Homo sapiens: one gene and its partner. The protein of the gene in region 1 purifies or fractionates together with the protein of each later gene. This does not show direct contact. Each region holds a gene or a part of one and is shown in the gene's direction. Other genes may lie near its edges. The genes, in order: CD5 and PPP1R7.

What was found.
Region 2: the proteins of CD5 (region 1) and PPP1R7 purify together in Homo sapiens (affinity purification with mass spectrometry; one large-scale study listed by BioGRID and IntAct). This does not show direct contact.

What each region holds. Positions count from the first base shown.
Region 1 is NC_000011.10:61,100,906-61,105,408, forward strand, and holds the start of CD5 (T-cell surface glycoprotein CD5 isoform 1 precursor), read left to right. Parts: upstream 1-1,583; 5' UTR 1,584-1,655; coding exon 1,656-1,710; intron 1,711-4,503. UniProt on the Homo sapiens protein: Lymphoid-specific receptor expressed by all T-cells and in a subset of B-cells known as B1a cells. Plays a role in the regulation of TCR and BCR signaling, thymocyte selection, T-cell effector differentiation and immune tolerance.
Region 2 is NC_000002.12:241,167,414-241,171,228, forward strand, and holds part of PPP1R7 (protein phosphatase 1 regulatory subunit 7), read left to right. Parts: intron 1-262; exon of another isoform or gene 263-324; intron 325-2,367; coding exon 2,368-2,454; intron 2,455-3,815. UniProt on the Homo sapiens protein: Regulatory subunit of protein phosphatase 1.

The sequences.
Region 1 (4,503 bases):
CATCAACATGGAGATCACACACACACATCAACATGGAGATTACACACACATCAACATGGAGATCACATTCACACACATCAACATGGAGATCACACACACACATCAACATGGAGATCACACACACACATCAACATGGAGATTACACACACATCAACATGGAGATCACATTCGCACACATCAACATGGAGATCACACACACACAACATGGAGATCACACACACACATCAACATGGAGATTACACACACATCAACATGGAGATCACACACTCATCCACATGGAGATCACACACACACATCAACATGGAGATCACACACACATCAACATGGAGATCACATTCACACACATCAACATGGAGATCACAAACACACATCAACATGGAGATCACACACACACATCAACATGGAGATTACACACACATCAACATGGAGATCACATTCACACACATCAACATGGAGATCACACACACACATCAACATGGAGATCACACACACACGTCAACATGGAGATCACATTCACACACATCAACATGGAGATCACATTCACACACACAAACATGGAGATCACACACACATATATCAAATGGGGATTACACACACATCAACCCCAACATGGAGATCACACACACAACACAGAGATCACACAAGTCAACATGGAGATCATACACACACATCAACATGGAAATCACAAACACACAACATGGAAATCACACACACATATCAACATGGAGATCACACACACACATCAACATGGAGATCACACACACATCAACATGGCGATCACAATCACACACATCAACATGGAGATCACACACAACACAGAAATCACACACGTCAACATGGAGATTACACACACATCAACATGGAGTTCACACACACATCAACATGGAGATCACACACACTCAACATGGAGCTCACACATACACCTCAACATGGAGATCACACAACACAGAGATGACACACACAACACAGAGATCACACAAGTCAACATGGAGATCTCTCTCTCTCTACACACACACACACACACACACACACACACACACACACACACTGGCACAAGCCCAGCATTCATGGCGCAGCCATCTCTTGTACTTGCTAGCAAAACACCACCTGTGGAAAGTCAGCTCAAACTTCCAACCTCATCCCTCACAAAGGGGGAATGGAGGGTTTGGTTTTGGCTTTCACTGGAGTCTGCAACAAGAACTGGCATCATGCTGCCCATTTCCCGCCTCTCCCCACCCAGACCCCTGCCTCAGGGACGCCTGTCCTCAGCCCAGCCCTCAGCTGCAGCCAGGCCTTCAGCCTCCGTAACCCCCGCTCAGGGTCCCCACCCCCTGCAGCCCTGTCCCTCCAGGATGCATGGCCTTGTCCTGTGTGGGGGTGGCCGAGAGCACTGCCCCAGCCCTGGGTACCTTGGGCAGGAAGCTGGCAGAGGCCAGGGCTGCCATTCAAACAGGGGCAGGTGGTTTTGCCAGGAGGAAGTTGACAGTTCAACTTCAAACATGGGTGACGCAGGCCCCACACTGCCTGCTCCCCGTCCCACCCCTCCCTGAGCACGCCACCCCGCCCTCTCCCTCTCTGAGAGCGAGATACCCGGCCAGACACCCTCACCTGCGGTGCCCAGCTGCCCAGGCTGAGGCAAGAGAAGGCCAGAAACCATGCCCATGGGGTCTCTGCAACCGCTGGCCACCTTGTACCTGCTGGGGATGCTGGGTGAGTACCCCTCCCAGGTGTCCTGCGAACACCCGGGCTCGCTCCAGTGCAAGGAAGGAGTTCCCAGTTTTACCCAAGGCTGACTCTGGGATCCACATGTCAGCCCTCTGGAGCGTTGTGGAGATTTGGGGCCACTGGGATCCCTGCCTGCCCCCACTAAGCCGCAGCTTGGCCCTCTGTCCTGCATGTCCCACCCGCCAGGAGCACAACCTTGCCTCTCTCATGCGCTGTTGAGAACCCTGCTTTACCCTTCCAGTGCAAGAGAGACTGCAGGGGGGACCCGCATTTGATGGGGCCCAGACAACTTGATTCCTAGGCTGAGTTGGATTTTAGCAGAGCATTCAGGCCTCCCTCTGCGAGGTCCCCCACTGACAGCCCAGCCTTTACTTGGTCGCCTCCAGAGACATGGAAACTCGCCGTCTCCGAGGCAGCTCTGATGATGCTCTGGACAGACAGTGGGCCGAGGCAGGGTGGAGCCGCCTCTGAGGACGATGTCTGAGCAAATGTCAAGGACTCATAGCGGAAGTCCTAGGCCCTCTCATGCCCAGTCCTGGGTCAGTCCCAGAGGGGCCCAGCCAGGCCGGCTGGGATGAGTACACGCTGGGCCTGCTCTCACTCCAGCCCTGGGTTGTAAGCCCAACCCTGTGTGACCTCGGATAGGTCCCCAAGCCTCTCCAGGCCTTGATCTCCCCATTTATGAAATGTGGGGGTTGGGGGTGTGAACTGGATGAGGCCTGACCCACTTCCTGAGGATTTAGAAGGTCTGGCAGGGTGACAGAGGTGCGTGACTCTGGGCTGGAAACAGGAGGATGCGAGCAGCTTCCAGGCTGGCAGGGAGAGGGTCCGGAGGCCTTGCCTGCCTGAGCAGGGAGCCTCAGCAGCCTTCTAGGGAAACCGGGTGTGCAGGTGTGAGTGTGGGGGAATGCATGTGTGTGTGTCTGTGTGCATGTGTGTGAGAACTGTGTGTGGGGGAATGTGTGAGTCTATGTGTGTCTGTGTGAGTCTGTGTGTACGTGTGTGAGAACTGTGTTGGGGGGTAATGTGTGACTCTGTGTGTGAGTCTGTGTGTGAGTCTCTGGGCATGTGTGTGAGTACTGTGTGTAGGGGAATGTGTGAGTCTGTGTGTGAGTCTGTGTGTGAGTCTCTGGGCATGTGTGTGAGTACTGTCTGGGGGGGAATGTGTGAGTCTGTGTGTGAGTCTCTGGGCATGTGTGTGAGTACTGTGTGGGGGGGAATGTGTGAGTCTGTGTGTGAGTCTGTGTGTGAGTCTCTGGGCATGTGTGTGAGTACTGTGTGTGGGGGGGGAATGTGTGACTCTGTGTGTGAGTCTCTGGGCATGTGTGTGAGTATTTTGTGGGGGGGAAAGTGTGAGTCTGTGCGTGTGAGTCTGTGTGTGAGTCTGTGTTCATGTGTGTGAGAACTGTGTATGGGGGAATGTGTGAGTCTGTGTGTGAGTCTGTGTGTGAGTCTCTGGGCATGTGTGTGAGTACTGTGTGGGGGGAATGTGTGAGTCTGTGTGTGAGTCTGTGTGTGAGTCTGTGTGTGGGAGTCTGTGCGCATGTGTGTGAGAACTGTGTGTGTGTGCTTTCATGAGCACAATGCGGCCTCCAAAGGCAGGATTATCTCCCCAACACATGTGACAATGGCACCTGTGCACACATGTTCACATGGTTCTTCTCACATGTAACAACAACAGGTACAAAATGCCTTCTGTCCCAAAGTAAGAGGCCTGAGACAGACCTCTGGCTGGCTTCAGGGACCCTGCTAAGGAGGGACCAGGCCCTTAAACCCCCCACCTGCTCCTCACCTCTGGCCTCAGACTTCATTGAGATAGGGCGGCTCCCAGCTGAGTATGGGAACCCGTGTCCTGCTCTAGGGCCCTCCCAACTGAATCCCATCATGGGTGAGGCTCCTGATGGCACCAGGCAAGTCCCCTGGCCCAACACAGGCCACAGTCAGGAAGACTTGGAGGTAGCCCCTTCACCCCAGTATGGGGACCTCCTTGAACCCCAGGAATACTCAGTTCCCAGTGTCTGAGTGAGCCGGTGGGTACCAAGCATTCCCTTTGTTCAGTGGGTAACGGTTTACAAAGCACTTTTAAAGCCATTTTCTGCTGCAAGCTTCACAACAGCCAATGAAGTAGGTGGGCCCATTGGCCCCATTTTACAGTGGGGAAAAGCGAGGCCCAGGAAGGCCGAGTGCAAACCCAGGGTGCAGCAGCTGGTGCACAGCCGAGCTGACCCCAGCCCAGCATTCCTGCCTTCACAGAGGCCCCTCCCTTAGCTAAAAGGGAAGGCCACCAAAGGCACTTCCGTGTGCAGGAAAATGGCCCTGGGACACAACCTCCACCAGCAGAGATACAGCCACCAGAGCTGGGGACACCAAGGGCCAGGGTTGCTGGAGTCAAACAGTGCAGGCACCCTTTGAGCCATTCCAAGGAGAGAGGCAGCAATGCCAGAGCCCTGGGGACACCACAGCCTCCTGGCTGGCATCGGGGCTTGGGGACCTTTGGATCCTGAGGCATGAAGATGCCCCCAGCAGGCCTGGGTGCTAGTGACAGGCCAGGGCTTCCCACAGTTGCTCCCCTCTCAGCCCCAGCCTGCCTGGACAGCTGCTGGCAGTGAGGCGGGGAAGCGGCTCTAACACAAACTGCACGTCCCTGACTGGCCTAGCCGATGCGACTCTGAAAGCCAGCACTGGGACGTGGGAAAGTCATGGACTCTGCAGTTTGAATTCCAGTCTGCCACTTACCAACTGGGCGACCTTGGACTAGTTCTGTAAGCCTCAGTTTTC
Region 2 (3,815 bases), on another chromosome or scaffold:
AAACCAAGTGTTCACCTGTGTAGTTTAGAGTGGTAAGTCGAGACGTGCCTGCAGTGGAATGGCGCTGAGGACTGTGTGGCAGGGGCTGGGGTTGGGGCCGGGTGGGGTGCGCAGCAGGGAGCCCTGGTGCCCTCCTGCACCCTGGCCTCCCTGAGCCAAGGCCCTGCAGTCACCACCAAGCATCCACCGGGAGACAGACAATCTGCAGCACAGTTCACATAAGCAGCCAGTCCCAGGAAAACTGGAAAGAAGTGTGGTTCAGAATTTTACCAGTAGAAGTGCTACACTGTGATCTTGGTTAAACACCAGATTATTCTTGGGCCTCTGAAACAAAACAGAAAAAAAAAAATTGTTGTATTAAAGGTAATTACGTTATTGTAATCTTCATCATGATCAAATGTGACAGTCTTTCTTCTGCCATTTTTTTCAACTAAAGATCAGACAAATATTTTCTCCTAAGTTTTGTTTCTTAATTTATCTGGAATTTATTTTTATGGTGGGAAATAAGAAAGTAAATGTAGTTTTGTCCCAGGTGGGAACTTAGACGACACCCCCCATCCCAGTGTCTCACGACTCCTGTCTTGTTCTTCGTGTCTTCTCCAGCTCTGGGCTCTCCCGTTGGTCTAGAATATGTTTGCAGTGGTCCCTGACAGGTGTAGTTTCTGTGGCGTTGTGTCATGCCCTTTGGTGTGCCTGCTCTCCTCACCCTGTTCCATTCTTTTTTTCTGTTTCTTAAGCAGTTCTTACTAGTTTGCTTTTGGATGAGTTTTCACAACATTGTCCAGCTCCTGTAGAAAAACGTGAAATAGTGTTGAGTGCCTACATGGATCCCTGAGCTCAGAGGTGATGGACCGGTTCTGACAGCCAGAGCCCACCACCGGCTCTGCCCCTCGTGCTGAGCCTTGGTGCTTGGACCTCACGAGGCTCAAATCCTGCGTGTGTTCCAGGCCACTTTCATTTTGCCAGTTTCTGGGCTTGCATACCAGATGACCATGAGCATCTCAGAATGGTGCAGAGTGCGGGGGAGAGCTGCCGTCCGTGCTAGAGAGGCCTGTTCCAGCCCCACCGCCAGGCGGTGTGTCGTTGGATTACCCACAGTCGCGTCTTCTGCAACATTTTCCTGCAGTCCTTTTTGCTCTGAACCCGCCCCACTGAGCTCCCTCGCACACTGTTGAGCCTGATACTCTGTGAGCAGACCTGACCAGGGCACCGAGATGGGGTGGTTTGAAGGCACCTCCTAGGCAGCATGCCACGTATAGCCTGCTGGAGAGTGGCGTCAGACTTGACACACGCAGCTGGTGCCAGCTGGGGTGCTGGGCGCCAAGGCAGCAAGGGTGGTACAGCCAGAGGAGCTCCCAGGCCACAGCCATAGCGCTTTCGAATTGGGAAAGCTACTGGCTGGGTACATTTCAGGGGAGATGGGGGGAGGAGTATTTGCTTTTGAGAAATTTTTTAACTTTCCCTTAAAACTTAGAAGGCTTTGGAATTGGAATACCAAAAATGCAGTAGAAAACCAAGGAAGGGACTCAGGAGGGAGCAGAGCGTGAGGGCAGAGAAGGGAATGAACTTTGTCAGAGGTTCTCAGACAGCTTGTAAATGTTTTCCTTTTGATGAGAAACAAAATTATTACTCAGGCTTAGCTAACATGTATTGGAAAGTGAGTAACTGATGTGCATTTTCAGAGTAGAAGATCCTAAAAACACACTCTTGTCTCCCAGTGGGGGCACACACCCTGCAGCAGGTGCTCAGCAGGCCCAGCACCCAGTCCTCAGCATGGGTCCCTTCTCTGCACTTATGCTCCCGGGACCCTTTTCCCAGACAAGAGTGTAGGCCTGGGGTCTGAGAGTCCTGCCTCTCCCACTGCTACTGTGCGCCTGGGCAGATTCTTAGCCCCACTGAGCCCCAAGTTCCTCATCCCTAAATGAAGAGAGGAACTTTGTTTTGAAGATTACTTGGTCGTACATTTCCTCGTGATGAGCACTAAGTAAATGTTTCTACAATTGTCAGCCTTTCTTCAGAGCGTCAGGGGGTTACTCGGTTCTTCCTGGGACCATCAGTCTCACTAGGTCTGTCTCAATGGACAGGGATCTGGGAGGACTGGGCTTGGAGTCTGACACAGTCTCAAATTCCAGCGATCAGGAGAGCTCAGGGAGATAGCTGGGCAGGCTCTGATGGAAACACTGTCCCAGGGAGGGCTGCAGGAAGCAAGCAGGTCTCGTCACCCTCCATAGCATGCCCTTACCCTGTGAGGGCAGAGAGGGCAGTGCACCTGCAGCCCTAAGGTCAGCACTTGACACTGCCTGCGTGGTCATGCAAATCACTGTTGATCAGAGGTAATCCAGGAAACATTTTATTTCCTTCTTTTAGAACAAACTCACGATGTTGGACATTGCATCAAATAGAATCAAAAAGATTGAAAATATCAGCCATCTAACAGAGCTGCAAGAGTTCTGGGTAAGTTTAATACACGCTGGGGTTGATGACACTTTGACTAAACTGGTCTCACTGATTAAAATGTCTTATGAATGAATACAAGAATCTCCTGTAAGCCTTCATGCTGAGTGACTCCGCACATCATGAGATTTGGGGTGGGCGCTCTTGTAGACTTGTATTGGGTGTTGTCTGTGCTCCTCAGCGTGAGCCACAGATCAGCAGCATTGACATAGCTTGTTAGAAATGCAAAATCTTGGGCCCCACCATAGCCCAGATGAAAACTGAGTCAAAATCTTTGCTTTACAAGACTCCGGGTGATTGCAGTACACACAAAGGTTGGAGAAGCCCTGATCTAGGTATGGGTAGAACCTACAATTGTCATTTGACCAAATGGTTTGCAAACCTCAGCAGAGAGGCAGACGCATTCCCTACAGATATATTCCAGCACAACAGAAGGAAATGTTGGATGGGTTTCTGCAGTTAGTCATCTTGGAATTTGCCTTGTATTTGTCTTGTCACAGGTATGGTTTCAGGAGTAGTGTTGTGGAGTCAGCAGGAAGAGAAACAGAATATAAGAAGTTTTTGCAGTTCCTCTAAAGGGGTTGGGAAATGATCCCCGAGTGGAAGTCTTCAGTGCTAGGATTCCCTTAGAGAAATCTCCTAAGGTTTATTGCCTTTCCGCTAGCACGTGGCCCTGCAGAGACTGCGGCACAGGTGTCACCCTGTGATGCTGGGAATGTAGTAGTGTCCTCAGATACATTCAGTCTAATCCAGGATTCATGCTGAGTGTAAGGCATCATTCTTCCTTGTCTCTCCTCTAGCCGTGCTGCTGACCCTGCTTATGTCCTGTGCTTTCTCCTTTCCCCACTTTAAAAGGTCATCCAAGTTTCCCTAGAACACAGGTGGCCTGCTGCAAATGTTCCTTGCCCCTTATTAGTGGCACTGGGTCTTGAGTAGTGTCATGATGGGATACCAGAGCATGTCTGGGAAGATCAGAGCCAGAATTTGGCAGGTGATAAAGATGTACCAGGCCAGGGGGAGCCTCAATGAGTCCAGGTGGGTCTATGTGCAGCCCACCCTTGAAGGAAGGTGTGGCTGGTGGTAGGCTGGTTGAATTAGTGCATAGGGAGTTGGCAAAGAAGCCAGGGAACAACACAAAGAAACCAAACAACAGGAATAAGGAGTCCAGAGACAGAGGACCAGGTGATAGGGAAAGGGCACCTGGCAAAAAATTAGGGAGCAGGTTTGGGAAACGAGCTGATACTGAAGCAATGTTCCTGAAGCGTAACGATTCCTTCTGCATGCCCTGCCTAGGAACAGAGCATGGGGCACAGAGTGCTGAGACCACAGGCAGGGGCCAACCTGGGTACCACAGCTAGCAG